Linked DNA regions of Homo sapiens. The protein of the gene in region 7 interacts with the protein of the main gene of each other region in a pairwise test. Each region holds a gene or a part of one and is shown on either strand. Other genes may lie near its edges.

Region 1 (4,324 bases), on a different chromosome or scaffold from region 7:
TTCTATGCCCCCAACTGCCCTTCCTCATGCCCACAGCCTCCGGTGCTTTCTGTGGCCATGGCACACTGATAGTCATGCACATGAATCTGTTTCCTCTGCCAGACAGGGCACTGTCTCCTCCCGTCCCTGGCCAGGAACACAGGGCTGGCCCAGGGGAGGTGCCAGTAACTTTGCAGGATCAGCTCTCCTCAGAGGCTCTGCCTAGCCCAGCCTCCTTCCCCTTGAGCCCTGTCTCCCTCCTTTCGCTGGCCCTTCATCCCACTCCACTGGCTCTGGGACGCCTGTGTCACTCTGGTCCCAGTCTGTCCTCTAGGAGCCTAGGGCTTCTGACCAGTTTGTCACATGCCCCTGTTTCCCCTTCATGCTTGTCTCCTGTCTGTCCCACTGCCAAAGGGAACAGGCTGTTCTCTGCCCTGGTTCCCCTGAGGTGTGGGCATAGTGGCCTTGCACACACATGTCCTGTGGCCAGCAGCTTGCCCCACTGTACCATGGATCCAATCAATGTCCCCACTGCCGAGGAGGGTATGGAAGTCAGGCACTGAGCTCTGGCTGGGAGAGATGGAGGGACTGGCTCTTGGGGAATCAGCGAGTGCTTCCATTATGGAGTGACCTAGGTCCAGAGCTGAAAACCCTTTTTTTTGAGATGGAGTCTAGCTCTGTCGGGCTGGAGCACAATGGTGCAATCTCAGCTCACTGCAATCTCCGCCTCACGGGTTCAAGCAATTCTCCTGCCTCAGCCTCCCGAGTAGCTGGGATTACGGGTGCCCACCACCACACCTGGCTAATTTTTCTACTTCTAGTAGAGACGGGGTTTTGCCATGTTGGCCTGTCTCTAACTCCTGACCTCAGGTGATCCGCCCACCTCGGCCTCCCAAAGTGCTGGGATTACAGGCGTGAGCCACCATGCCTAGCCTGAAAACCCTTCTTAAGAAGTCATGTGGCCGAGCGCGGTGGCTCACGCCTGTAATCCCAGCACTTTGGGAGGCCGAGATGGGTGGATCACAAGGTCAGGAGATCCAGACCATCCTAGCTAATACGGTGAAACCCCGTCTCTACTAAAAACACAAAAATTAGCTGGGCGTGGTGGCGGGCACCTGTAGTCCCATCTACTCAGGAGCCTGAGGCAGGAGAATGGCGTGAACCCAGGAGGCAGAGCTTGCAGTGAGCCGAGATCACGCCACTGCACTCCAGCCTGGGCGACAGAGCGAGACCCCATCTCAAAACAAAACAAAAAGTCATGTGACACAGCAGTTGCCAAGCTTTCTGTGTGGCAGAGACCAGGCCAGGACTCCTGGTCTAGCTCTCTGTGGGCTGACTGGCCCCTGGACCTGGGGACTCAGTGGCCCAGCCTCCTTTCCCCAGGCAGGGCCAGGCAGGACTGACACTGGTCTCCCTGGGGACAGAGTTAAACGAAGTCCCTCCTAAGATCCCATGGGGTGGGGTGGTACAGTGGGGGGAACGCGAGTTGGAGTCAGGGATGACAGCCCAACCCTAAGGCCCTGTCCTATCCTTGCAGCTGTCTTCCAGTGTGGGGACTGGGAAGACACACGCAGCCCTCCTGATGCTAAAAGCCCACTCAGGACACTTCCCAGTTCCCCAGGCAGGCCGCCTCTCCATCTGGCTGCTGTGATAGGGACGTGTGCTCACCTTGGTCCCAGCGGGATGGCCTTTGCCTTTAACCCCAAAGATTTGAAACCTGCATTCTCAGCATAAGAGAGAGCAGGGGGCAGGGGGTCTGTGATGCCCCCAGGCCCTGCAACTGGAATGCACTAAGTGGTCGATGAGATAAAGAAGGGGCCCGCCTCTGCCTCTAAATCCTGACCTGCCACCACCAGGGACTCCCCAGGGGGTCTGCTCTGGAGCCACTCTGCAAACTGCAGAGGGCCCGGAACTTGGAAAGGAATTTAGGCTCAGGTCACCTTCGGGTCAGAGCAGGAGGGATGGTGCCATGGTGGCTGAAAGAAGGGATGTTGCAAGGACCTGTCAAGAGGCCCCGGGGACTTCAGTTCCTGACCCTGGACTGTGGGCACTGGCAGCGGCTGCAGGACTAGGTGAAGGTCAACACCGTAGGGGCTGGATGCTGGGGGCAGCCAGCCTACCACCTGCACCTGTGAGCCCAAGACGAGGGTTCTGACTGGATCAGCCTCTGCGGGAGGAGGTGCTCAGTGTTGATGCGCGCAACATGACTGCCTCCCGGGGCCTCAGAGTCAACTCTGGTGGAGGGAGGCCACCCTTGACTGGCTCTCCGGCCATAGGGCTTGGCTCTGTGCAGGGTGAATGCACGCTACAGCTGCACTCCCAGGCAACACCCCGAGGGAACAGGGAGGCATCAGACACCAGCCCCCCAGCCTCCTCTCTGGGCTGCCCTGTCTGTGAAGCAGAACCATGTGACTGGCAGGGCTGCTGGGGGGCAGGTCACAGGATCTCAGCACCATGGCGCTCAGGCAGGGACTCAGCTGTTTCCCAGGCCCGGGCCCTTGAGCCCCGTGGGTGGCTCTCATTCCTTCTTCCTTGCTCAGATTTATGGGAAGTCATAGAAAGCTGTCTCTTGGGATGTCTGGGAAAACAAGTTAGACACAAACCTAACGAGCTCCATTAATTGTCATGGCTTTGCAAAACAGACCTTCCTATTTGCTCCTCATGTAGCATTTTAAGCTGTCATCCCTGAGTGATGACTGCAGATGTGGATGATGATAGTCTGATGAGCAGACTAAATCTGAACATCCTGTTTTGATGTAGGGATGCTTGCTGCACCCCCACCCCATCCCAACACAGAGGACAGGGTGAGGAACCACGGGGCTTCCCAGTCCTAGAGTCCTGCTGAGCCGGGAGAGTTCAACCTCGCTATTTTTTTTTTTTTTTTTGGAGACAGGGTCTCGCTCTGTCACCCAGGCTGGAGTGCAGTGGTGTGATCTTGGCTCACTGCAGCCTCCACCTCTTGAGCTCAGGCGATCCTCCCACCTCAGCTTCCTGAGTAGCTGAAACTACAGGCATGTACCAACATGCCCGGCTCATTTTTTCTATTTTTTTTTTTTTGTAGAGGTGGGGTCTCACCATGTTTTTCCCAGGCTGGTCTTGAACTACTGGGTTCTGGTGATCCACCTCAGCTCCGCGAAGTGCTAGGACTGCAGGTGTGAGCCATCGCACTGGGCCTTGACCTCACTTTTAACTCTGAGTCCCACCTCCTGCCAGGAACAGGAGGGCCTCTCCCGGGTCCATCCCCATCCCTACCACAGAGGACACTGGACTGGAATATTCTGTTCACACTTCCACCATCTCAGCCAGCCCAAATGCTACAGGCAGGGATCAAGGTGACCTGTCTCTATCTTCCAGGGCAGCCAGGATGGGGTCCAGCCCAGCATGGTACTCATCAAATGCTCTCTGACTGACCAAAGGCAGAGATACTAGAGTAAGAAGGAGCTGCTAGGGACCCCTGACTCTCAAAAGCTGGGCGGGCCTTTGTGTTTAAGACATAATTCAAGTTCAACAGATGAAGAACCCTGGGCAGGGGTCACCCTGACCAAAATAACAGTCTGGGCAAGAGCAGAGAGAGAGGGTGTGGGGCAGGACAACTGAATGGTGGATGGTGGGGGCAGGCCAGGGCTCCGTGGAGGCAAGGACTTGAGGTTCACCCTGACAGAACTCCAAGTCTTTGCCAGCTATTGTGTTAGGTGCTTCTAACCCTACCTGGCACAGCGGAGCCCTGGAGAGATACATAGGGCAGGAGGAGGACGGAGCAAACACACAGACCCCAGCCAGATTGTGCTGCGAAGCGTGAGAAAGCCTCAAAGGTATCACCGCTCACACAGAGAAGTCTTTCTCAAAACAGTTTTGCAGGGAGATGAGGGAGGGAGAGACTCATGCATGATCCTACCTGAAGGCGTAGGTCTTCTGATGCCAGCTCAGCTGTCCCCGGATGCTGTATGCGATGGTGGTGACAAACTCCCCGCCCAACCCCAGCTCCGAGCACAGCTTCAGGGCAAACTTCTCTGGTGAGTTCTCCTTCTCTGACATGTCCCACTCAAACTGGTCCACCAGGGAAATGTTTCCCACATGGATGTTCAGCTGAGGCAACAACCAAAGGACACAAGTTAGAGCTTTTGCAGCCCAGGGAGGCCGCGAGGAGCGGGGCCCTGCCAGGCCTGGGGTGGGCCCTGCCCACCAGGGTCCACCAGCTGAGAACTGCAGGTGGTCCTTGTCCTTCCAGTTCCCCATCCCCAAAACAAGGCTGACCCCACAACCCTGTCTGCCATGAGGGGCTCTGGCTCAGGGCCCAGCACAGTCACCCTCGGGAGGCCCTGAAGTGACCCCGGGGGCACCTGAG
Region 2 (4,324 bases), on a different chromosome or scaffold from region 7:
GTAGGGAATTTTTTTTTTCATTATAAGCACTGTAGCACCAACTTACATTTAAATTCATGCATACTATTTTAATAGAAAAAAATGTCAAGGACAATTGGGAAGGTAAGAAGTAGCCATCGTGAATCTAAACAGCTTTCTCAAGAATTTTGACAATACAGGAAAAGAAATAATATCTGATACATATGTAGCCTTAACATTAGCTAGGTACCATTCTGAACGCTTTAGGTATATTAACTGTTTAATCCTCGTCTCAAACCTATGAAGTAGGTACTGTTACTGGCCCCATTTTACAGATGAGGAAACAGTTCTCACAGCTAGTAAGTGGCAGAGCTGGGATTAGAACCCAAGCTTAGTGGCTCCAGAGCCCATGCTCTTAACACTGGTAGGTGGCAGGAAGTGAAGAACTGAGAAAGGGTTTATTTGTTTTTGTTTTTCATTTGTAGTAGGAAAGGTGCTAGCAAAAAGGTCTAGCCAAGAAGATGGATAATCAGGCTGAGCCATTGTTTGACTTTTGCCAAGTATTGCTGTGAAAGGACAAGAAAGTGAAGGGAGCTTGAGAATGTAAACACACATGTTGGATGAGCCATGGAATCTCAGCCAGTTAGGAGAAAGGAGCTTGAGGGGTTGTGGGAAAATGAGGGGGTCAAGAAGAGAGTGGGGAAAGTGGAAGGAGAGAGGTTGTTTTCAAAGAAATGGGACATTGGCTTTGAAGAGGTGACAGATGGAATTATAGAAAATGAGGCTGGGTGTGGTGGCTCGTGCCTGTAATCCCAGCACTTTGGGAGGCCAAGGCAGGCAGGTGGATCACCTGAGGTCAGGAGTTCGAGACCAGCCTGGCCAACACGGTGAAACCCCGTCTCTACTAAAACTACAAAAATTAGCTGGGCGTGGTGGCATGCGCCTGTAATCCCAGCTACTTGGGAGGCTGAGGCAGGAGAATTGCTTGAACCCAGGAGGTAGAGGTGGCAGTGAGCCAAGCATCTAGCCGCTGCACTCCAGCCTGGGTGACAGAGCTAGACTCCGTCTCAAACAAACAAACACCCCTGTCCTTGCTCAGTCATCTATAATAGCTCTTAGTTGCTTATTTAAAACAAAAATCTTTAAAGCGCATCCCACCCTAGGTTACCCAGCCCCTACTTTCAGTGCCTCTCTGAGCTACTGTGTCTGTAAAATCAAGGTATTGTACTCTGCCTTGCATATTGGAATAATTTTTTTTTTTGAGACAGGCTCTCACTCTATTGCCCAGGCTAGAGTGCAGAGGCACAGTCATGGTTCACTGCAGCCTCAACCTCCTGGGCTCAAGCCATCCTCCCACCCTCAACCTCCTGAGTAGCTGGGACCACAGGTGCTTACCACTATATCCAGCTAATTTTTTATTTTTTTGTAAAGATGATGTCTCCCAGGCTGAAGTTATCCTCCACCATGCCTGGAGTGAGCCACCATGCCTGGCCTGGAATAAATTAATGGAAGAAAGGGTGCTTTAAAAAGAATTGTATTCGGCCGGGTGCAGTGGCTCACGCCTGTAATCCCAGCACTTTCGGAGGCTGAGGCGGGTGGATCATAAGGTCAAGAGATTGAGACCATCCTGGCCAACATGGTGAAACCCCATCTCTACTAAAAATACAAAAATTAGGTGGCCATGGTGGCGTGCACCTGTAGTCCTAGCTACTTGGGAAGCTGAGGCAGGAGAATCGCTTGAACCCAGAAGGCAGAGGTTGCAGTGAGCCAAGATCATGCCACTGCACTCCAGCCTGGCAACAGAGAGAGACTCTGTCTCAAAAAAAAAAAAAAAAAGAATCGTTCTCATTACAGCCTAATTTCTTAATAGTCCCCAGTTGAGTCTTCCTCTTCAGTAGTTTTTTGTTTTTGTTTTTGTTTTAATAATTGTAGATTTACAGGAGGTTTCAAAGAAATGTACAAGAGAAGTCCCGTGCACCCTTCTCCCAATCTTAATGTTTCACACAATTAAAGTATAATATCAAAACCAAGAAATTGACATTGGTACAATCCATAGAGCTTATTTGGAGTTCACCAGATACACATGCTGTCAATATTTGTGTATGCGCGTGTGTAGCTGTATGCAATTGTATCACATGTAGCCTTGCATAACTACCACCACAACCAAGATCCAGAACAATTCCATTATCACAAGACTCCTTTGTGTTACCCCTTTCTGGCCACACCCATCCCCTCCCCTGTCCCTGGCCCCTGGCACCCATTTATCTGTTATGTATCACTGCAGGTACTTCAATTAACATCACCTAAATGGAATTGTGTGCTACGCATCCTTTTTCTTTTTTTTTTTTTCTTTGAGACAGGGTCTTGTTCTGTTGCCCAGGCTGGAGTGTGGTAGCATGAGCATGGCTCACTGCAATCTCCACCTCCCAGGCTCAAGCGATCCTCCCACCTCACCCTCCCCGGTAGTGGGACCACAGGTGCACACCACCACACCTGGCTATATGCTTCTTTTGAGATTGCTTTTTTCACTCACATAATTTGCTTGAAATTTATCCACCAGCATTTTTTAAAAATTAACTGTGCATCATCTTCAGTGAGATGTGTGCATTTCGTCTTTGTTCATGCCTTTTCCACTGCCTAGAATGCCCTCTACCAACCCTGTCTACCGATCTGTATTCATTTCCTTCAGTGTGTCTCACTGCTGTGTGCCTAAACCCATCTGACTTATTTCTCTTCCCTTATCAATTATGTATATTTCCCATACCATATCATTTTCCACTTGCAGGTAGGAGGCAGGGACCACGCCCATCTTATCTTTATATTCCCAGCATCTAGTACAGTGCCTGAAATGGAGGAGGTACCCAGTAAATAATGTTTTGGATGAATGAATGATTGAAGTTGCTCTGCTGGATTCTTATATTGTGTCTTGGGTATGTGTCGTCTTCCCAACTGCACTCGAAGCTACGTTGTAAACTTGAGAGCAGCAGCTCCATTCCATTTACTAGTATAGGCGAGGTCCCAGTTAGGGTTGCCGTAGATGTTTGTATGTGGCTTCAGTGAGCGTGTGTCTTTGTGTACGTGGGGGTGAAGTGAAGGCGTGTTTGTGGGCTGGTTTCCCAGCTGCCCAGCCTGACTTTCTACAGTCAGCAGGATGGACCTGGAGATGTCAGGGCTGAAGACCCTGGAGCATGTGGCAGTGACAGTCTCCATCACTCACCCACGGCGCGGCAGCTTGGAGCTGAAGCTGTTCTGCCCCAGTGGCATGATGTCCCTCATCGGCGCCCCCCGCAGCATGGACTCGTATGTACACCCGCCCGAGGCCTGAGCAACCTTTTCAGCAAGGGCCTTTCCAGGGAAAAGAAATGGAAGAAGTGGATCCTGGCACTGTCCTAAACTACTGTGGCACTGGCTATCCCTGGCGGCTGGAAGCCTTTCGTCACATACCTTCTTCAAGCGCTAGGCCCTGCACCTCACATACATGTTCTCTAATCCTTCTAAGAACCCCCTAGATTAGACTTTGTAACCTCCTTTTACAAATGAGGAAACTGGCTGGGTGTGGTGGCTCACACCTGTAATCCCAGCACTTTGGGAGGTCAAGGCAGGAGAATCACTTGAACTCAGGAGTTCAAGACCAGCCTGGGCAACAAAGTGAGACCCTGTCTCTACAAAAAATTTAAAGATTAGCTGAGCATGGTGGTACATGCCTGTAGTCCCAGCTACTCAGGAGACTGAGGTGGGAGGATCACTTGAACCCAGGAAGTCAAGGCTGCAGTGAGCTGTGATCATGCCACTGCACTCCAGCTTGGATAACAGAGTGAGACCCTGTCTCCAAAAAAAAAAAGAAAGAAAAAGAAAACAAGTCATGGAGCTAGTAAGTGCCCAAGAGAACAAGAATAAACCTAGATCCGTGGGACTCCAAGCCTGTGCGCGCTCCATGCTTGCTTTTTCCACCACACCACGTTAACACAATTTCCTCCTTCCATGAGACCCCAGGGGAAAGGGGCACCTGAGAAGCCCTCGTGGCACCCTCCCAGGTTGTTTCCACGGCTACTACAGTAAGAAAGTGTTGCTGGGGGAAGGTCAGCTCTCTGGCCCACGCCTTCCACCTGTTTCTGCTGTGTTCTTTCCTCAGGGATCCCAACGGCTTCAATGACTGGACCTTCTCCACTGTGCGATGCTGGGGGGAGAGAGCCCGAGGGACCTACAGGCTTGTCATCAGGGATGTCGGTGAGTCTCGTGCCCTCACACCAGGCCCTACCTTTCCTGCTTGTTATCTGGTCCCTCTGCATCTCAGAGTCCCCACAGAAAGTGTCCCGTGTGCAATATATAGGGTTGCCATTGGACCAAGAGAGTTGATGCCAAGAGT
Region 3 (3,398 bases), on a different chromosome or scaffold from region 7:
CTCTTGATGAGAGGAGCACCGTGCTCATACAAAGATAGGAGGAACTGTTATCATCTTCTGCAGATTCTATCACAGAACACCTTCAATATCTTATTTGTCATCAGAATGAAAACAAAGATAATCAAGGGAACCTCACCTTTATTCTTTTCCTGGGTTTAATGAGACTCTGCTCCAAATACTTTGCTTTTTTTTTTTTTTTTTTTTTTTTGAGATGGAGTCTTGCTCTGTCACCCAGGCTGGAGTGCAGTGGCATGATCTCGGCTCACTGCAAGCTCCGCCTCCTGGATTCAAGCGATTCTCCTCCCTCAGCATCCTGAGTAGCTGGGATTAGAGGCGCTCGCCACCATACCTGTCCAATTTTGTTGTATTTTTAGTAGAGACAGGGTTTTACTGTGTTGGCCAGGCTGGTTTTGAACTCTTAACCTCAAGTGATCCGCCTGCCTCGGCCTCACAAAGTGCTAGGATTACGGGCGTGAGACGCTATGCCCAGCCTAATTTTTGTATTTTTATAGAGATGGGGTTTCACCATGTTGGCTGGGCTTGTCTCGAACTCCTGACCTCAAGTGATCCATCCGCCTCGGCTTCCCAAAGTTCTGGGATTACAGGCATGAGCCACATTGCCCAGCCCTCCAATTTCTTGAGTATCATTCCAGCCCTCAGGTCTTGGGGCTCTGTCTATAATTAGCTATGTGCATGTTTGTGTTCTGCTGTTTGCCTCTTTGTGGTGGATGTGCGTCCTGTTATCCCAACTTAAATTGGAAAGCCCATAGAGGCAGAGAGCAAGTCATCTTCGGCATCTCTTTCCAGCACTTAGTACTGTGGAGGGTTGAATTCAGTTGTGTCGTAGATGTCTAGGGAAAAGGACAGTGTTAGAAACCTCTGTGGAAGCGAATGTGGTTGTGGGAAGATAAAGGGGAGTCTTAAGGCCCTGTGGTTCCTTACAGCCTGGCTAAAGGATGGCAACTTTCCAAATGTTTCATAGAAAGTCTCAAATACAGGGACACGTAGGCACTGGGGAACCACATATTTATTTAGATGAATCCAAACCAGACATGGTGCCGAAGCTCCTTGAGGACACAGTCTCACCACTGGCGGGCTTCCTGGAGGCACTGAAAAGAGGGAGCACTTTGTAGCCATGACAGCAAATGGCCAGAGGACACCAGGCTGCTGAGGGCACCGTTGTCACGGTCCCTGGCTCCTGTGCCATGAATTCACTTCATTGCTGGGCACTGGCTGTGAGAGAGGGAAAGGGGCAACTAACACGAACACAAGTATCATTAACACAGAGAGGGAGGTGAGGGAGGGAGAGTTGTCTCTGCAAGCCGACTGTCGGAGAGCGCTTTCCTGAGAAGTCTGTACTTGTAACGCACCCCTTTAGGCTTTCATTTGCTACATACCAGTGAGAGCCTTAAATAAATGTCTTATGGGATCAAATTCATTTCCAATTTCCATCAGCCAGCAGCTACAAGTCAGAGAGGACACTGGGAACTTGTTCTCTTTAGTTCTGTCTCAAGCTTCTTTTTCGCCTTATGCATCACTTTGTTCACAACATAGCTAATGTGAATGACGGAAAATCTAAAAGAGCTGTCCGGTTCTAAATGATGAGCTGAGCTGTCTTTTGCCAATAATGTGCTGCTTGGGACCACACACCTAAAGGTTAAATTATAATTGACATAAATGAGAAAGAGGATTTTCTTCTCTTGGAAGGGAAGGAATCCATAAGCTTCAAAGTAAAAAACAAATATATTAATCCATTTTTTTTTACCATGCTCATGATCCTGAGGCGTTTACTCAGTCAGCAGGAGCAGCCTCCCCTGTCCTTACACACCCCACAGGCACAAGGTGCTGTGACTCTTGTGGGTTCCTGCACTCTGAATTGTTCCCTTGACATCTTTTCCTACAATACCTGCTCAGCTCCCTCCCACAGAATCTCCTTATGATTAGGTGGATGCTGTCACTCTTCTTCAGAGGACCATTCATTAGGTTTAATTCCTACCATCGACTTGAGGAGTGCAGACATAGAGAGGATATGACAAAAGCAGACTGCATCTACTATAAATTCTCTCCACAGGGATGACAGTATCGCTTTTAAAAATGGTTACAACAGGCTGGGCGCAGTGGCTCACGCCTGTAATCCCAGCACTTTGGGAGGCCAAGGCGGGTGGATCATGAGGTCAGGAGATCGAGACCATCCTGGTTAACACAGTGAAACCCCGTCTCTACTAAAAAAAAAAAATTGCCGGGCGTGGTGGTGGGTGCCTGTAGTCCCAGCTACTCTGGAGGCTGAGGCAGGAGAATGGCATGAACCCGGCAGGCAGAGCTTGCAGTGAGCCGAGATAGCGCCACTGCACTCCGGCCTGGGCGACAAAGCGAGACTCTGTCTCAAAATAAATAAATAAATAAATAAATATAAAAATGGTTACAACAGCTGGGCATGTCGGCTCTCACCTGTAATCCCAGCACTTTGGGAGGCCGAGGTGAGTGAATCACTTGAGGTCAGGAGTTCGAGACCAGCCTGGCCAACATGGTGAAACTCCATCACTACTAAAAGTAGAAAAATTAGCCGGGCATGGTGGCGGGCGCCTGTCATCCCAGCTACTCGAGAGGTTGAGGCACAAGAATTGCTTGAACCCAGGAGGCAGAGGTTGCAGTGAGCCAAGATGGCGCCACTGCACTCTAGCCTGGGCAACAGAGTAAGACATCATTTCAAAAAAAAAATGGTTACAACAAAAGTGGCCACCAGTGGATACATGACTGAAAGGCTCAGGAATGCACCTCTGTCCCTGACTCAACAACACTAGCCATAAACAGGAAGTAATCCAGTGAGACATCTTGCCTCTCTTTACTTACCTTTGTCAGAGTACCATGCCTTCTTAGGTGTCCTCAATTAGGAACTGTAATAATTCGGACATTTCTCAGTGTTAACATCTCAGAAATCTCTGAGAAACTTTCTTTCAGAGCATTAGAAAGGAATATTCTATTTCAGGTTCTTGGGGAGTCAATGGTGCTAATTAGGTAGTCTATACATAGAGAAGAACAGGACATGTAAGGGCTCATTCATTCTTGATCCATGCAACAAACATTTAGAGTGCCTACTGTGTGTCAGAAACTGGGCTAGACACTGGGGGGACAAAGGCAAATAAGACAATGTCCCTACCCTCAAAATGCTTATAATTTAATAGGGAAACATATCTATAAATAGATAATTATAAAACAGTATGTTAAACACAATGATAGAGATCTGAACAAGGTGACAGGTATAGATAAGTGATTAAATACTTTAAGGAAGTAGAGAGGATATGCAATATTACCTATAAATAAACCGGAGGGGAAGTGAAATAAAGCCTGACAAACAGTTGCAGCTTTCCTAGGCTGAGTCAGAAGATTGCACAGCATAA
Region 4 (4,324 bases), on a different chromosome or scaffold from region 7:
GATATACTCAAAGCCTAACCACCCCTCTCTATTTTATTCCTTCTCCAAATGATAGAATAAAATCCAGATTAGAGAATTAATGCTGGTTATTTGTTAACACCTGATTTTCCTACATGTTCCTTAAAATTAACCAAATATTTTGTGATTTCTTTCTTCTTCTTTTTTTTTAGACAGCGTTTCGCTCTTGTTGCCCAGTTTGGAGTGCAATGGCGCAATCTCAGCTCACCGCAACCTCTGCCGCCCAGGTTCAAACAATTCTGCCTCAGCCTCCCAAGTAGCTGGGATTATAGGCATGCGCCACCACACCTGGCTGATTTTTTATTTTTAGTAGAGACGGGGTTTCACCATGTTGGTCAGGCTGGTCTCGAACTCCTGACCTCAGGTCATCCACCCACCTTGGCCTCCCATAAGTGCTGGGATTACAGGCATGAGCCACCATGCCCGGCCCTTGTGATTTCTTAAATACATACATAAATACATAAGTAAAGTGAGGAGCTAGAGAGTTCCTTAAACTACATAAATCCATGTGCCCAAACTAGTAACATTTCTATGTGTAAAGCTGCAATAATGATGCTACCATGAGAAAAACTTAAGGGGTGAATTTGTACCAGAATGGGGTTTAAATGAGCTAAATGCCAGCTTGCTAATTTAGTTACTTTAGCAAGTAATCAATGAGAAATTACTTTTAGAAAAATGCCACGCTAAGTATTATGAAATTCAGTGATTTTTTTTTCAGTCTCATTTCTCAGTAAGTTTATAATCTAGTAAGATCTATGACCACAGCTTTTTTTGGCCTTTTCTATCCAATTCCCAGTCTAAATACCTTTCATCTTTTCAAAAAAAAAAAAAACACCAACCAAGAAAATTCAAATAAGAATTTCAGAGTAGAAACTTGGCTTCCAAAGAAGAGAGATGTCACATTTACTCTACCTGTTTTGCACAGCATCTGCAGCTACCAGAAAACTTCCTCATTATATTTTCAAGGTCTAAGGCCCGTTCAGGACATGCTCTCTCTCTTCTAGTCACATTTCCACGACATAGGGGACAATGTGCTCCGCTTTCCCTCATTGCAGTCAGGAAACATTTTCTACAGAAACTAAACCAAACATTGTGACACATTAATTACAAAAAAAATTACTCTCTTCATCTCTATAATTAAATACAAACAAGTGATTATAAATATGTATTCATATTAAATAAGTTAGGCTACTCATATGTACATAAATCTCAGAAGTTTAGTAACTGTATATGTATTTATCAGAGAGTAAGACTGATAACTGGACTAGATGGGAATATTTGAACAATTACACTCAAGTCTGCTTTACAACTTCTTAACATAATATATGATGAATAAATATTAATGCTACATATTAATAATATTACTAGAGGAAGCATGGTACAAAGGAAAAACCGGATCCTGGCTCTGCCATTTAGTAGCTGTGTAATCTTAGGCCAACAAATTAACGCACACTGGATCTCCATTTCCTCCCCTTACAAAATAAAAGGATGAGTAACATAAGCTTTTGTCTCAAACTGATGTATATCGACATGTTGTTCCACAAGACATAAACAGGTCTACTACAAAAGAGCACACAAATTGGTTTGGGAAGTTCTAGGATAAAGTTAATAGGTTTTACCCAAAGTTAGGTGTTACCCAAAGTTATCTGCGTGTTAACAGATATTTGGTTATTTGGTCCGGAAGTAGGGAAATTTCCCAAACAGTATGCAATGGAACATAATTTGAGAAATACTTAAGAATACTTCCGGCTTTGCCGGGCACGGTGGCTCACGCCTGTAATCCCAGCACTTTGGGACGCTGAAGCAGGCGGATCACGTGGTCAGGAGATCAAGACCATTCTGGCTACCACGGTGAAATCTCGTCTCTACTAAAAATATAAAAAATTAGCCGGGCGTGGTGACAGGCGCCTGTAGTTTCAGCTACCCGGGAGGCTGAGGCAGGAGAATGGCATGAACCCAGGAGACAGAGGTTGCAGTGAGCCGAGATTGCACCACTGCACTCCAGCCTGGGCGACAGAGCAAGACTCCGTCTCAAAAAAAAAAAAAGATTAAACATTTATAACCAACTTTCTAATTAGAATCAAACTAAAATCTTTTTATCTTCTCTAGCCCCACCAAATACCTTATTTGATCATTTTGCTTTCAAGAGAACCAGTTAAATTACAGACATATATATCTGGGATCTAGAATACATATACATTTAATCCAATCTCCTATAAATATATATGAATATTCCTCCTCTATACTAACAGAAGTTGAGAGGAAATGGTGCAGTAACAGATCACATAACCTGAGTTTCCTAACTATGCAGCACTTTTAAACAAGTCAGTTTTTCCCTCTAATATCAGTTTCCTCACTCACGAAATAATAAAAGTATCTACAACTGATTCGGCTGTTCAGAGGATTAAAATAGATAACAAGTATAAAATGCTTAACACATTATTTGTCATGGTCAGGAAAGTGCTCAATAAATAGTAGTTAATATCATTAAAGCAGCACTAGAAGTCATTACCAATTAACACCATAAACTAAAACATTAGGCAGGGCGTAGTGGCTCATGCCTATAATCCCAGTGCTTTGGGAGGACAAGGCAGGAGGACAGCTTGAGGCAAGGAGTTGAAGACCAGCCTGGGCAACATAGCAAGACCCTGTCTCTACAAAAATTAAAAATAAAAAAAATTAGCTGGGTATAGTAGCATGCACGTCCAGTCCCAGCTACTCAGGAGGCTGAGGCGAAGGATCACTTGAGCCCAGGAGGTTGAAGCTGTAGTGAGCTATGAAGGTGCCACTGCATTCCAGCCTGGGTGACAGAGCAATACTGTCTCTCAAAAAACAATAACAATTAAAAATATTTACCATAGCCAGAAACCAAAATAACGCAAAGTAAACAAGATGCCAGTTTTCACTTGCCAAACTAAAAACTAGTTTTATTTATTTTATTTTTTTGAGACAGAGCCTCGCTCTGTCGCCCAGGCTGGAGTACACTGGTGCGATCTTGGCTCACTGCAACCTCTGCCTCCAGGGCTCAAGTAATTTTCCTGCCTCAGCCTACCCAGTAGGTGGGACTACAGGCATGCACCACTGCGACGGCTAATTTTTGTACTTTTTGTAGAGATGGGATTTTGCCAGTTGCTCAGGCTAGTCTTGAACTCCTGAGTTCAAGTGATCCAGCCATCTCAGCCTCCCAAAGTGTTGGGATTACAGGCGTGAGCCATGGTGCCCAGCAAAACTAGTTTTAAAAATAGTAAAAGTAACCAAATCTGGGCACAGCAGCATGTACCTGTAGTCTTAGCCACTTGGGAGGCTGAGGTGGGAGGGTCTCTTGAGCCAATGAGTTCAAGGCCCGCCTGGGTAACACAGCATGACCCTGTCTCTAAAAAAATAGTAATAATAAAACAATGGCCAGGCACAGTGGCTCACACCTGTAATCCTGCACTTTGAGAGGCTGAGCGGGGCAAATGGCTTAAGCTCACAAGACCAGCCTGGGCAACATGGTGAAACCCCATCTCTACTAGCCTGGCATGGTGGCACATGCCTGTAGTCCCAGCTACTCAGGAGGCTGAGGTGAGAGGATCACTTGAGCCTGTGAGGCAGAGGTTGCAGTGAGCTGAGATCGTGCCACTGCACTTCAGCCTGAGCAACAGAGTGAGACCTTGTTTAAAAAAAAAAAAAAAGAAAGAAAAAGACAAAAATGAAAACGGTGGGAAATACCAAGTGTTAGGGAGGATATGAACCAACCTAAACTCACATTGGAGGCTATGGGAGTATAAACTTTTACAACCATTTGGAAAACTGGGTGGCAATATCCATTAGAGCGCATAAATTCCACTCTGAAGTATATACCCATCAAACCTATATACATAAAACCATGGGCAGTGGCTTATGCCTATAATCCCAGCACTTTGGGAGGCCAAGGCGGGAGGATTACTTGAGGCCAGCCTGGACAACATAGTGAGACTTTGCTCCTGTAAAAAAATTAAAAATAAAAATAAAAAATTAGCTGGGCACGGTGGTGCATGCCTGTAGTCCTAGCTACTTGAGAGACTAAGGCAGGAGGATTGCTTGAGTCCAGGGGGTCAAGGCTGCAGTGAGCTATGATCACTCCATTACCCTTCTACCTGAGCAAGAGTGAGACCCTGCATCTATTTAAAAACCAAACAAAACAAAAATTACATATATAATCAGAAAAAATTTGCTAGAAAGTTCATAGCCACACTATTTATAATAGCCCCAAACTGAAAACTATACATAGGTCCGCCAACAGAAGAATGCATAACTAATTATGGTATATTCACAAAATGAAAAT
Region 5 (4,931 bases), on a different chromosome or scaffold from region 7:
GGAAACTAAAGTACTAAAAAGCAAAAAAGGTAAGATTTAAACACAGGTCTGATTTCAAAACTGTTATTTCCACTGTCCCATGCACATTCACAGTCTAGTTGAAGAGACCACGTATTCAACAAATGTAAAACCATATGGGCTTGTGCAATGGGAGAGTCCCCAGAGCTTTCCCATTTAAAACTAGACCCTAGTTCCAATCCTATATGTGACCTTAGACAAGTCCCATAGATACTTTAGGTCTTGAGTTTTCTCATCAGTAAAATGAGGAGGTCAGAGTAGAAGATCCTGAGTGTTCCCTACTAGTATAATAGAAAATTTCCCTTATTAGACTGATGACTGTGGCCAAGTTTCCTCACATCTTTAAGATGGGAATATCCTGAAGACTAAATGATGTAGAGCATGGTGTAATACCACTGTGTGTCTGGTATATGGCAGCATCAACAAATGTTAGTGGAATCCAAAGTGATTATCCTGCAATAAATAGGACAATAAAGCACATGAAAAGTTTAGGCACTGAAGATATGACTGAAAAATGGACATACCATAACAGAGAAAGAACTTGAGCTAGACCCGGAAAGATACTGGAACTGAAGTATAAAGAGAAAGGAGTAGGGAGGAGCGGACCTCTTTCAAAGGCCAAAGCCACCAAAAAGTATGGACATAAACAAACTTTATGATCCGTGAGAGACAAACTTGTGACTGAGTCTCCTACTTGAAAAGCAAGTTAAGTCCAAAACTTTTTCCTTTAGAAATGTTGAAGATGCTCACGCCTGTAATCCCAGCACTTTGGGAGGCAGAGGCGGGTAGATCATGAGGTCAGGAGATCAAGACCATCCTGGCTAACACGGTGAAACCCTGTCTCTACTAAAAAATACAAAAAATTAGCCGGGCGTGGTGGTGGGTGCCTGTAGTCCCAGCTACTCAGGAGGCTGAGGCAGGAGAATGGCATGAATCCAGGAGGCGGAGCTTGCAGTGAGCCGAGATTGCGACACTGCACTCCAGCCTGGGCAACGGAGCAAGACTCTATCTCAAAAAAAAAAAAAAAAAAAAAATTTTTTTTTGTTTTTTGAAGATGCCAGGATGTCATAAAAGCATTGTGATCTGGGAAACTTAATCTGGCACTGGCAGATGGATGAGTGGAGAAAGGAGAGACGTCAAACAATGAAGCAAGGGAAACCTACAACGAAACCACTCCTTGGCAGGAAACCATAAAAGCCTGAATGAGAGAATGGCAACAGGGACAAAGAGGAGTTACTCTATCATGTTCTATGATATTTTACACTTTATCAACTATTTAGAATAGTGCCTTTCTTTGTTCCATTATTATATTCCATTAACAGAGATGAGACTATACCAGTCCGGATGATGGTAAAAGAATCCTTAAAAAGGAAAATATAATTAATTTCGGTTATCGATTCTGGTATGAAATTGGCACCCAGAAAAGAAAGCCCAAAGTAAATTTAAATGTCTAATTCCCGGATTGATAGCACAGAATTTAAAATATATACATAGGCTCGGTGGGGCAGCTCACGCCTGTAATCCCAGCACTTTGGGAGGCCGAGATGTGATCACCTGAGGTCAGGAGTTCGAGACTAGCCTGGCCAACATGCTAAAACCCAGTCTCTACTAAAAATACAAAAATTAGCCAGGTTTGGTGGCAGGCACCTGTTAACAGTGAGCCAAGATCATGCCACTCACTCCAGCCTGGGTGAAAGAGCAAAATAAAAAGATATATATACACACACACACACACACACACACATATATATGCATGTTTCTTATCAAAATAATACATTTTTTAATCAAAAGAGCACCATTAAAACACAGTCATGCACTGCATAATGACATTTTGATCAGTGACCAACCGCTCATACCATGGTGGTCTCATAACAGTATAATGGAGAATATACAGAAACCTGATATATGGCACTGGATACCGGCAATGCAGATCAAGTAGATGAAATGACTGATATTCAGTAATGGTGCTGGGACATTTGGTTTTCCATATGAAAAAAATATATAAACAAATATACACATACCATCTAGGTTTGTGTAAGTACACTCTATAATATTCGCACAAGGACTAAGTCATCTGACAAAACATATCCCAGAACATATTCCCGACGCTGACTGTATATACTTCTTGTAAAGCAGCAAGTGCTTATATTCATTATTTACCTGCTTCTGTTTATGGCAATCTCTTTACTCGACCTTTTCTCAATTTGACATAGAACATTATAAAAGATACACAGAAGAAGAGCCAGTATTTTGGTGTGATCTCAGAACTAATTTACAAATTCAATTAATATTTGTATCGAATGCAGATTTTTAAGGCATTTGGGAAGTTCAAACTCAATATGGTAAATTTTTAAACTGGACAAAAACCATACAACAGAAAAGTCCCATTAAGTAAAGCCTATTCATGCCTTTTCATCTCTGTAGGAGAGAAAGCCTGGTGTATTGGGAAATGATTGAGATTTTCCTTACCCTGATTTCTACATTCCTTGATTTCAAGTTAAAGCGTATCTGAAGTCCCAAATGTTCCACAATAGGAGTAAATATCTTCATCCAGTTTTCTTTCAATGGTGTGTATCTGTTAGCTGGGACTGGAATTTTCCTTGTTTCTTCTTTCCCACTCTGTAAATAAAAGAACACACAACTCAGAAGGCTATGGAGGGACGGTGATGGAGTTTAAAATGACATCTGATCCACAAAGGGCCTCCTTTAACTGAACTAGTTACACTTCAAAGAATCACTTCTCTCTGAGCATCACGGCAGAACAGCCCCACCGCAGCTTCAACATTCTCCAGAGGCCATCGGCTTGATCCGCGTCTGGCCCTTGCCTCGTTGCTGTCCTAGGGTCCCAGCCACATACCAGGAGCCCGTCCCCACAGAGGGGTGGGAAGACGGGCCTCTTCGCCGGCCTGGCCTCCTCTGTGTCCATGCGGCCCGCATCCCCGCCCTCTCCTGCTGCGGACAGCTGTTCAGCCTGTCGTTTCTTCGCCCGTCGGCCACCCTTGCGGGTGACCTGGGTAAAGCCCTCCTCTGCCCTGGCGCTCTGCGTTTCCATTTCGGATTCCATCCCCGGAAATCTTAAAGCGCTGCCGGCTGAAACACGTGCGCAGCTGCACCACGCAGAAGCCAGCCTCAGCCAACCACCCCTGCAGCTCCGCCCCTTTCCTAAAACGTCACAGGCCGGGGACCTGCAGGATTTGGGGCCGGTGGGGGGGAAAACGGGGTTAGGCTGTCCTAAGATATGCCTGATGGTCTTGGGCTCACTCCAGCCGCGCAACTCCCAGCCCAAGTATTTTGTAATCTCTAGTATGTATGTGTGCGAAAGGCAGTGGGTAAAGGCGATAAACAAATTCGTGCTGTTGTGAAGGAACATTCTGTGCGATCGCAGGAGCGCATCTGGCATTATCCGGGGATAACTACAGCCAACATGCCAGGGCATCTGGGGCAGAATACGGAAAGCGGGAGGGACAAATTGCCAATGTTTGGAGTCTGGTTTCCAGGTTGCCGTTTTTGGGGGCTCTGGGTGTGGCGGTTGCCGTAGCTGAAATTGGCTGCACCATGTCGGCCTTCGAGAAGCCTCAGATCATCGCCCATATCCAGAAGGGCTTCAACTACACGGTGTTTGACTGTAAGTGGGTGCCCTGCAGCGCCAAATTTGTGACCATGGGCAACTTCGCACGGGGCACCGGCGTCATTCAGCTGTACGAGATCCAGCACGGGGACCTGAAGCTGCTTCGGGAGGTGGGTGCCGGGTCGAGGATCCGGACTGCCGTTGGGGGCGAGTGCGGATCCTGGGGTCTGCATTCCTCTTTGCCAGAGCCTTCGCCCAGCGTCCCCCAAAGCATGGCTTGAGCCGCGCGAGACCAGAGAAGCTGACCGCCGACTGAGGAATGTTTCCTATTTAAAACCTTTCTTCTCATCCGCGGGGTAGTTCCTCCGCGCCCAACCGTCCTGCCACCCCCAGTGCAGTCCAGCCAAAGCGGGCACCAGGATGCCTGCAGTGTGGTTGGAAGAGGCAACCTAACACATTCGACAGGCATCAGCTGAGTGCCTGGTATTCCCAGGGATGTGAATGGTAATGTCCCCCATCTCATGGAGTTTATTTTCTAGTGGGAGAGATACTCAGTTCAATAATCAAAGCAACGATACATAAATACAAACCGAGATGAGTTGTCTCACACAAAGGAACACGGTTACGGTTCAATGAGAGTGAAAACAGATTTGGGATGAATGAAAACAGATTTTGGTATGTGCAGAAGCTAACTAGGTCAAACTAGGAGTAAAGGACAAGGTTTCCAGGGCTTCTGCACATGCAGAAGCTCAGTGATGGGAAGAAGTTTATCTCCTTAAGAAACTAGAGGGATAAGCAGGAACCAGACATTGCAAGATCTGTAGGACATTCAAAGGATTTATGCCTTTTTTCTAAGAAAAAACGGACACAACTGAAAGGATTTAAGCAGGGTGTGGAAAGATTAGGTTTGCAAGGTTTTTTTGAAGATTACTAGTGAAAGAATTAGAGAATAATGATAGTAACTAGCATTTTATAGCTGTTTATAGTTTTTAAAAAGTGTTGATTTTGTTACCTGAAAAAATGATCAGTCATTATCAGATCAGGGTTGTAATAGACTACAAGTGCAGGGTAGGTTAACTCTGGGGATCAAAACCTATGGAGAGAATCTGCTTGGAGGAGGTAGGGATTAAACTGGTAGATAAAGGATGAATACAATTTGGACTGTTAAGCCTAGAATAGAAAGTATGTAAGACCCCATCCCGCTTTAAGTTTCCCTGAATGACAAACATGAAACATGGCTTATTTTTTTCTACCTTTCCTTCGTTCCTTGTATTGTTCATCACTTAGCTTCTGGTAACCAGTGGCTTTTTTTTTTTTTTTTTTTTTTTTGAGACAGGGTCTCAAT
Region 6 (4,324 bases), on a different chromosome or scaffold from region 7:
CATGTGTATGAAGAATACTGGAAAGAAATAGAGCAAAAATATAAGAGCCTTTATTAAGTTTCTCAAAAGGCTCTTCTGGACCTCTGGACTTGATTGAGTACACAGTCTTATTTTTCATAGCAGCCTGTACCTCCTTTATCACAATCATAATTAATTATTATTTGAGTAAATTGTTAAGGTCGGTAAGGGTAGCAATCGTGTCTGCTGTATCTTGTTTAGTGTTCTCTCCTTCGTGCCTAGCTCATAAAAATATTTAGTATTTGAGGCCCGGAGCAGTGGCTCACGCCTGTAATCCCAGCACTTTGGGAGTCCCCGTGGGTGGATCACAAGGTCAGGAGTTCAAGACCAGCTTGGCCAAGATGGTGAAGCCCTATCTCTACTAAAAATACAAAATTAGCAGGGCGCGGTGGCAGGCGCCTGTAATCCCAGCTACTTGGGAGGCTAAGGCTGGAGAATTGCTTCAACCCAGGTGGCAGAGGTTGCAGTGAGCCAAGATCGTGCCACCGTACTCCAGCCTGGGCAATAGACTGAGACTCCATCTCAAAAAAAAAAAAAAAAATTTAGTATTTGACATATAAATAAAAATGTCTGGTGGTGGGTTAGGATCCCTCACATTTTCGAAATGTTTGGAATGTTTTATTTTGCAACTTAATATAATTTAAGAAATTGGTGAAAAGAGAGCTCATGGACAAAGAAGGTGCTGAAACCATTCTTCACTTAGGAAATTGACAGTGCCTCCTTAAAAGCAGAAATGCATCTGGTTGTCATGTAGAAAAGACTTTTGTCTAATCTTCTGTCTTTCTTTCAGCAACAAAAAGAGAGCAGGAGGCAGCTATTCAGAAATTATTATCTTTCTGATTTTTGTTTCATTTAGTGAATACCAGGGCCTGGTGAAGCACACAGGAGGCTGCCACTGTGGAGCAGTTCGTTTTGAAGTTTGGGCCTCAGCAGACTTGCATATATTTGACTGCAAGTGAGTATTTTTTTTTCCCTAAATTGGCTTAAAAGAATTTCAGAGTTAAAATGCAATATTTCAAAATAATCTGGGGAGTTGGGGTACAGAGGAAACATTGGCCTTGGGCTGGTAACTGTTGAAGTCAGGTGATGGGGACAGAAAGGTTCATTGTTCTATTTTTGTTCCTTTTATATGGCTCATCACAGAGCTTCAACAGCATGGCCCAGGTGACACAGAGCAGGGTCCTCAGGGCTTGTGGCTTGTGGCAGCATCACCCTCAGACTGACACTGCTGAGGAGCCGGGGGCGGTTAGCTGCAGGTGTGCCTGGCTGGGTACTGAGTGGAAAGCCTTGGGCAGAATCTTCATAGAAGTCTAGAGTTGGGGAGAGTTGGAGGGTATGTTAGTAAAGGGTGTATACACCTGGAGGCTCCCCAGGCCCTCCACTCTCGCTCTGCTCTTCGGTTGAGGCAGATGGCACTGCTGGCTGTGGAGGGCCTGATTTGTACCACCTTCCCCGGCGTTATGATGGAGCAGGGACGACAGGCTCTGGCTTTGGGACCCAAAGTTGGCATGCAGCTAATTATTTAACAGCATCCAGTCCTTTTTGCCCCTAGGTACCGGAATTATATATGAATAATAAGCACATACGATGGAATTACTCAAATGGAGAACTGACCAGGCTACTAACAATAGAGTCCAGATTGGAAAAGAAGCACTGTGGAATAACTTGTGAGAGGATTCTGTGCTAAATTAGAACTTTTTCAAAGGTGGCCTGAAAAGAGGGGACTTCAGTTTAATTCCAGAGATGGTAATTCTGGGGACGTGTTTTACTTGGAGCTGGACTTCTTGTGACGTGGTGATGAAGAAAGAGGGAAACCTAAACTTCCTTGTCCATTTTTGGTGTGGATGTCTCAGAGACATCAGGTTGTAGCAGTGTCTGAAATTTGTTTCCTAAGTGTCTCTGAAGTCCAGCGCTTCTCTTCACTGTAAAGAACTGAGGGGTGGGCAGTACAGACCTGTCTGTTGGTCCTGTGTTCTGAGCATTGCAGAACCTCGACTGCTGACTTGGGACCCCCCTGGGCTCTGCTGTACCTGCAAACCAGAGGCACTGCTATCCAGGCCTTTGCCCCAGCTCCTCGGCCCTGGATGGTGCTGAAAGGGGCATCATCTGTGGGGTCGGCTGGCTCTCATGGCTGGGCCGCTCAGGCATAGAGGATGCAGGTGGCTGCTCACAATCTGGAATTTGCTCTGTCTTTCTGTAGTTGCAGCATTTGCAAGAAGAAGCAGAATAGACACTTCATTGTTCCAGCTTCTCGCTTCAAGCTCCTGAAGGTCAGTGCTTAAGAGCAGGGTCAAGGAGTGCAGAACCCATTGGTGAGATTTACAGGACCCCCCACCCAACTGTTAGCATGCCGTCTGTAGCATGGGAGGGGCCTGGAGCATAGCAGGGCCTCTCACGGGCTTTGGTTTCAGGTTGACATTTAAAAGGTGGGCCCGGCACAGTGGCTCACGCCTGTAATCCCAGCACTTTGGGAGGCCAAGATGGATGGATCACCTGAAGTCAGGAGTTGAGGACCAGCCTGGCCAACATGGTGAAACCCTATCTCTACTAAAAATACAAAAATTAGCTGGGCGTTGTAGTGCATGCCTGTAATCCCAGCTACTTGGGAGGCCAAGGCAGGAGAATCACTTGAACCTGGGAGGTGGAGGTTGCAGTGAGCCGAGATCACACCATTGCACTCCAGCCTGGGTGACGAGTGAAACTCCATCTCAAAAAAAATGAAAATAAAAAATAAAAGGTTGTGTTATTTTTTACCTTTATTTTTTGGAGGCCTATTTGGTATTGTGGAAACATTTTCAAATTCAGAGAATCAAAAAACAATAAAATCACCCAAATCCTGTCAACTAAAGGTAACCACTGTTAATATTTTGGTGTCTGTCTTTGTGTATTATTTTCTACTCTGAGAAATACATCTAAACCTATTGTCTTATGTTTATTAAGTAGAATTTTACCATTCTTTTTGTTGATAAACTGCTTATCTCATTTCCCAATGAAAAGCTTATATACTTATTTGTAACTTTAATTTTATTATTTTGGGGAATTTTTTGTACTTGGTACAAAATTTGAAAGGTAGAAGAAAATGTGTATATACACAGTGAAAAATCTTTCCCTACTGTCCCCATGCCCCAGTCTCCCTCTTCCCCACAGCCGATTTCCTGGTCTACTTACCCCATCACTGTCTCTGCATCATTGCAGTTGAGTCCCGTTTTTTTCTGATTATCAACAACACTGGTGAACCTCCTTGGTATACATTTTTGACAATTTAGAAATTTCTTCTTTAGGATCAATTCTCTTAGAAATAAGTTCTCTGGCTATTCTGGGCACACTTCCTACACCCTGCTCTACAAGGAGCAGTTAAAAAAAAAGAGAGAAAGAAAATCTCCAGGTTAAAGAATACAGATTTTTTAAAAAAGACTTTTAGCACATTATGGGTAATGTGGGGTTGGGCGGGGCTTTAATTCCATCCAGATAATGCTGGATGGCTTGGGACCACTTGGCAGTCCTTCGCTGCTTTTCTGTGCTGCAGTGGCTATGGAGTGAGCAAGGCTCCTCAGGGAGCTATTTCTATAGGAAGCACAATTCTGGACGGTATGGCTGGGGAAGCGTAAAGAGGGTTAACAAGGATAAGAAACCTCCACCCCTTCCCCTTCAGCTGTCTGATTTCTCTCCCTAAAGGTAAGCCACTGTTTCTTGGATCCCTCTTCAAAGATACATATGCATATAAAAGCACATACAGGCCAGGCACAGTAGCTCATGCCTGTAGTCCCAGCACTTTGGAAGGCCAAGGCAGGCAGATCACTTGAGCCCAGGAGTTCAACACCAGCCTGGACAACATAGCGAGACCCCCATGTCTACAAAAAATAAAAAATCGGCTAGGTGTGGTGTTGCATGCCTATAGTCCCAGGTACTCGGGAGGCTGAGGTGGGAGAATCACTTGATCCTGGGAGGTCAAGGCTGCAGTAAGCTGTCGTCATACCACTGCACTCCAGCCTGGATAACAGAGTGAGATCTTGTCTCAAAAAAACAAAACAAAACAAAACAAAAACACCACACATACCAGTATATAGCCTTAAAAAAAAAAAAAGAAATGGTAGCATACCACGTACGTTGTTTTATACCTTGCTTAACTTTTTTTTTGAGACAGTCTCACTCTGTTGCCCAGGCTGGAGTGCAGTGGTGTGATCTCGGCTCACTGTAACCTCCGCCTCCCAGGCTCAAGTGATTCTCCTGCTTCAGCCTCCTGAGTAGCTGGGACTACAGGTGCCCGCCACCACATCTGGCTAATTTTTACATTTTTAGTACAGAC
Region 7 (3,500 bases):
CTGTCTCTTCTAAGGACGCCGCGTGGATCTAGGACTCACCCCAATCCAGGCTGATCTTGTCTCAAAGTCTGTTCCATAATGACACCTGCACAGACCCTCCTCCCAAATAAGTCACGTTGGGAGCTTCCGGTGGATGCGTCTCTTGGGGGATTTGGCACAGGATGGAGGCTTCAATGTTCCCTGTCTGGTCCCCTTCCTTTCACACATGGAACTGAGGCTCTGAGAGGAAACAAAACAGGCCGCAGGCAGTGGAATGTGAGTCGCAGGCAGGGCTGGAGCTGAGGCGACCATGGGCCAGGGTTGGTACGTGGAATCCCATGCCGTCCTACGTGCATTCTGCGTGGAGTGGCCCAGCCAGGGTTCTGGCAGGTGCCCCCGACGGCACTGGCTTCCTCTCCAGCATCCCTGTTCCGTTCGTCCATCCCGCAGCACTGCACCCACTCCCCACATGCACGTGCACGCTACACGTGTGCCCCCAAGTGTGCGCCCCACCGCCTCCCAGCCCAGGCAGCTGGTCGTGGGCGAGGCAAGGAGGGGCCCCAGGGAGAAGGAAACTCAGGGCCTGAGGGCGAGACCATGGAGGATGCCAATGGCCACAGGGGCACGTGGCCCATTGCCCTCCCACTTGGACACTTTGGGGTGCGTGTGTCTGGAGGGGCCAGGAGAGTGGAGGGGACGCAGTGGAATAGAAGCTGCCCAAGGCGGTGGGGGTGCGGGGGCTCGTCCTCCTGACCTCCAGGCTGCAGCTGCAGGCTCTGCAGGGCCCGGCACTCGCCCAGTGAAGGCAAGGTCTTGGAGTGGTGGCGGACGGTCACCTCTAGAGATGATGTGGTCTCGCGTTCCAGTCAGGGGAGCGCCCAGCCCCGCAGCCCCCAGGCTGGGCTCCTCATCCTGTCCTGGTGGCCAGAGTGGCAGGCGTTGCGAGCAAGTTCAGGGCTGTGGTGTCAGGTGCGGACCTCCAGCGCGCAGAGCCTCATCCGAATACCGCTCACCGGTCAGAGCTCGGGTTGAGGGGGCGCGCTCCTAACCCCATTCTCTGGGGCCTCCTGGTGCAGAGGAAGCTTCCTCCAAGATGAGGTAGGAGATGGGAGGCAGCTGGCCACGGCCTCTCCGCCACCCACCCCACACCCTCCACGCCCCCGCCACTGTCACTGGGCCGTATCACCCATGATCCCCCCCTCGAAGGGAGGACGAGGTTCCTAAATCAGGCAGCAGCTTCCAGCTCTTTCCGAGGGGCACAGCGGGAGCTGCCATTTGTGACGCTGTCCAACCCAGCAGCCACTGGGTGTGTTTAATGGTAAGTTAGTTCACATCAGAGGCAGGTCAAGAGCCAGGACCGCAGACACACCCAGCTAATGGCTGCCACGCTGGACCCAGCAGATAGTTCCATCATCCCAGAAGGTTCTAGAACAACACTGGGGGAGGGCGGGCAGCAGACAGCACAGGCTGGGCAGGTGGGAATTCACCGTCAGGGACAGCCGGCAAGCAACACGCGGTGCCCCAAGGACTGTGGGAATGGGAGAGACCTGCCAAGACACATGTCCTGTGTCCCGGGGAGCCAGGCCAGGCCTTGGCACAAACAAGCACCTTCGGCGGGAGAGGAAGACACCGGGCAGGGGAGCAGCTGGGGCTGAGCCCATCTAAGCCTACCCGCTCTGGAGGACACATCTGCTGCCAGGACTGCCCAGCCATCCACGCACCCCCTCCCCACGATGCCAGTATCAGGCCCGGCGAGACTCACCGTTTTCCCGGTGCTGGAAGGAAGGGGAGAACTCTTTGGCAGTGATCCTGGCGATCCGCGCCTCCTCCTGGGCTTTCTGAGCTGCTGTGAGGGCTGCCTCGGCCTTTGCCCGAGAGTGGGAGGTCCTGGGGGAGACAGGGAGGAGCGTGAGGGGGGGCAGGGGGCACAGGTGACAGGGGTCTGGGTTGAGGTACTCTGCCAACCCCCCAACAACGGGCTGGGCTAAGACAAGATGCTGGCACCCCATGTTTACCCTCAGACTTCTGGATCTTGTTCGTTCATTCATTCATTCATTCAATAAACATCACTGAGCATCAACCAACCAGGCCCAGTGCACAGGACATGCTTGAAAACACCTCTGGGCAGGGCATGGTGGCTCACGCCTGTAATCCCAGCACTTTGGGAGGCCAAGGCAGGAAGATCGCTTGAGCTCAGGCGTTCACGACCAGCCTGGGCAACATGGCAAAAGCCTGTCTCTGCCAAAAATACAAAATTAGCTGGGTGTGATGGCACGCATCTGTGGTCCCAGCTACTCGGGACACTGAGGCAGGAGGATTGCTTGAATCTGGGAGGTGGAGGTTGCAGTGAGCTGAGATCGCGTCACTGCACTCCAGCTTGGGTAATAGAGCAAGACTCTGTCTCAAGGAAAAAAAAAAGGGGAGGGGCTGGGCACAGTGGCTCACGCCTGTAATCCCAGCACTTTGGGAGGCTGAGGCGGGCAGATCATGAGGTCAGGAGTTCAAGACCAGCCTGCACAACATGGTGAAACTCCGTCTCTACTAAAAATTACAAAAATTAGCCGGGTGTTGTGGCACGTGCCTGTAATCCCAGCTACTCAGGAGGCTGAGGAAGGAGAATTGCTTGAACCTGGGAGGCGGAAGTTGCAGTGAGCGGAGATCACGCCATTGCACTCCAGCCTGGGTGACAGAGCAAGACTCCATCTCAAAAAAAAAAAAAGAAAATGTTTCTGTTCTTATTATCAACAAACATCAGCATGTGCACAGAAAGAGTCCAAGCCCAGACAACCCACCCCGGCGGTGCCGGCCCGCTGTGCTGTGTGTGTCTGTGCTTCCTGCCACTGCCCCGGTGTGGGTTGCGGGACCACCTCCCTGCCCAGTAATCCCAGCAACTCTGACTTGGGAACCCAGGGCTTGGGCAGCTGGGCAGTTCCCTCACCCAGCCGAAAGATGACGCCGACACCCATGTGTGACACGAAGGAGCCATTGTACCTGTGGGCAGCCGGGCACGTCACCCCTCTGGCCGCTCCCTGACTGTGTCTCTCCCTCTGCTGAGTCCTGCAGGGGACCTGCCCACCCTTTGTAAGACAAGGGACTAGACAGACGTCCCGAAGGCAGAATGTGGGGCTCTGTGCATCTCAGCAGCCTGGGGCTTGCATTTCTTCCTACCTGGTGTGCTGGCCCCCGGGGGGGCCTGCCAGTGGCCATGGGCACCACTTCCCCAACAATGGGGAAACTGAGGCACAATGACCAATTCCCCCACGACAAATCCCCCCTCCGAGCAGACTCCCTGGGAGGTCTCCTGTTCACGGTTCCTGACTTAGCCTGTTGGGGCTGCAACAAAGCACCGCAGCTTGGGCGGCTCATCAATAGCAGACATTGCTTTCCCCCAGTTCCGGAGGCTGGAAGTCCAAGATCAAGGTGCCAGCAGATTTGGTGTCTGCAGAGGACCCACTTTCTGGGTCCTGGACAGCACCTTCCTGCTGGGTGCTCACATGGTAGAAGAAGCGAGGGTGCTCTCT

Evidence for each region.
Region 1: the proteins of JPH3 (region 7) and SMARCB1 interact in binary tests that used the Homo sapiens proteins (3 or more experiments, as listed by UniProt).
Region 2: the proteins of JPH3 (region 7) and PCSK7 interact in binary tests that used the Homo sapiens proteins (3 or more experiments, as listed by UniProt).
Region 3: the proteins of JPH3 (region 7) and MYBPHL interact in binary tests that used the Homo sapiens proteins (3 or more experiments, as listed by UniProt).
Region 4: the proteins of JPH3 (region 7) and RNF138 interact in binary tests that used the Homo sapiens proteins (3 or more experiments, as listed by UniProt).
Region 5: the proteins of JPH3 (region 7) and PNO1 interact in binary tests that used the Homo sapiens proteins (3 or more experiments, as listed by UniProt).
Region 6: the proteins of JPH3 (region 7) and CENPV interact in binary tests that used the Homo sapiens proteins (3 or more experiments, as listed by UniProt).

The regions. Positions count from the first base shown.
Region 1 is NC_000022.11:23,824,966-23,829,289, reverse strand, and holds part of SMARCB1 (SWI/SNF-related matrix-associated actin-dependent regulator of chromatin subfamily B member 1), read right to left. Parts: intron 4,066-4,324; coding exon 3,875-4,065; intron 1-3,874.
Region 2 is NC_000011.10:117,207,831-117,212,154, reverse strand, and holds part of PCSK7 (proprotein convertase subtilisin/kexin type 7 preproprotein), read left to right. Parts: intron 1-3,101; coding exon 3,102-3,258; intron 3,259-4,090; coding exon 4,091-4,185; intron 4,186-4,324. UniProt on the Homo sapiens protein: Serine endoprotease that processes various proproteins by cleavage at paired basic amino acids, recognizing the RXXX[KR]R consensus motif. Likely functions in the constitutive secretory pathway.
Region 3 is NC_000001.11:109,291,356-109,294,753, forward strand, and holds the end of MYBPHL (myosin-binding protein H-like), read right to left. Parts: intron 2,895-3,398; coding exon 2,884-2,894; 3' UTR 2,851-2,883; intron 1,651-2,850; exon of another isoform or gene 1,234-1,650; 3' UTR 1,010-1,233; downstream 1-1,009. UniProt on the Homo sapiens protein: Myosin-binding protein which plays a role in cardiac function. Seems to regulate conduction in the atria and ventricular conduction systems.
Region 4 is NC_000018.10:32,108,526-32,112,849, reverse strand, and holds part of RNF138 (E3 ubiquitin-protein ligase RNF138), read right to left. Parts: intron 1,097-4,324; coding exon 931-1,096; intron 1-930. UniProt on the Homo sapiens protein: E3 ubiquitin-protein ligase involved in DNA damage response by promoting DNA resection and homologous recombination.
Region 5 is NC_000002.12:68,156,086-68,161,016, reverse strand, and holds the start of PNO1 (RNA-binding protein PNO1), read right to left. Parts: upstream 3,130-4,931; 5' UTR 3,083-3,129; coding exon 2,876-3,082; intron 2,638-2,875; coding exon 2,488-2,637; intron 1-2,487. Other genes in the region: DNAAF10 (dynein axonemal assembly factor 10), read left to right, coding at 3,574-3,756. UniProt on the Homo sapiens protein: Part of the small subunit (SSU) processome, first precursor of the small eukaryotic ribosomal subunit.
Region 6 is NC_000017.11:16,346,580-16,350,903, reverse strand, and holds part of CENPV (centromere protein V), read left to right. Parts: intron 1-874; coding exon 875-973; intron 974-2,218; coding exon 2,219-2,288; intron 2,289-4,324. UniProt on the Homo sapiens protein: Required for distribution of pericentromeric heterochromatin in interphase nuclei and for centromere formation and organization, chromosome alignment and cytokinesis.
Region 7 is NC_000016.10:87,682,508-87,686,007, reverse strand, and holds part of JPH3 (junctophilin-3), read right to left. Parts: intron 1,867-3,500; coding exon 1,742-1,866; intron 1-1,741. UniProt on the Homo sapiens protein: Junctophilins contribute to the formation of junctional membrane complexes (JMCs) which link the plasma membrane with the endoplasmic or sarcoplasmic reticulum in excitable cells.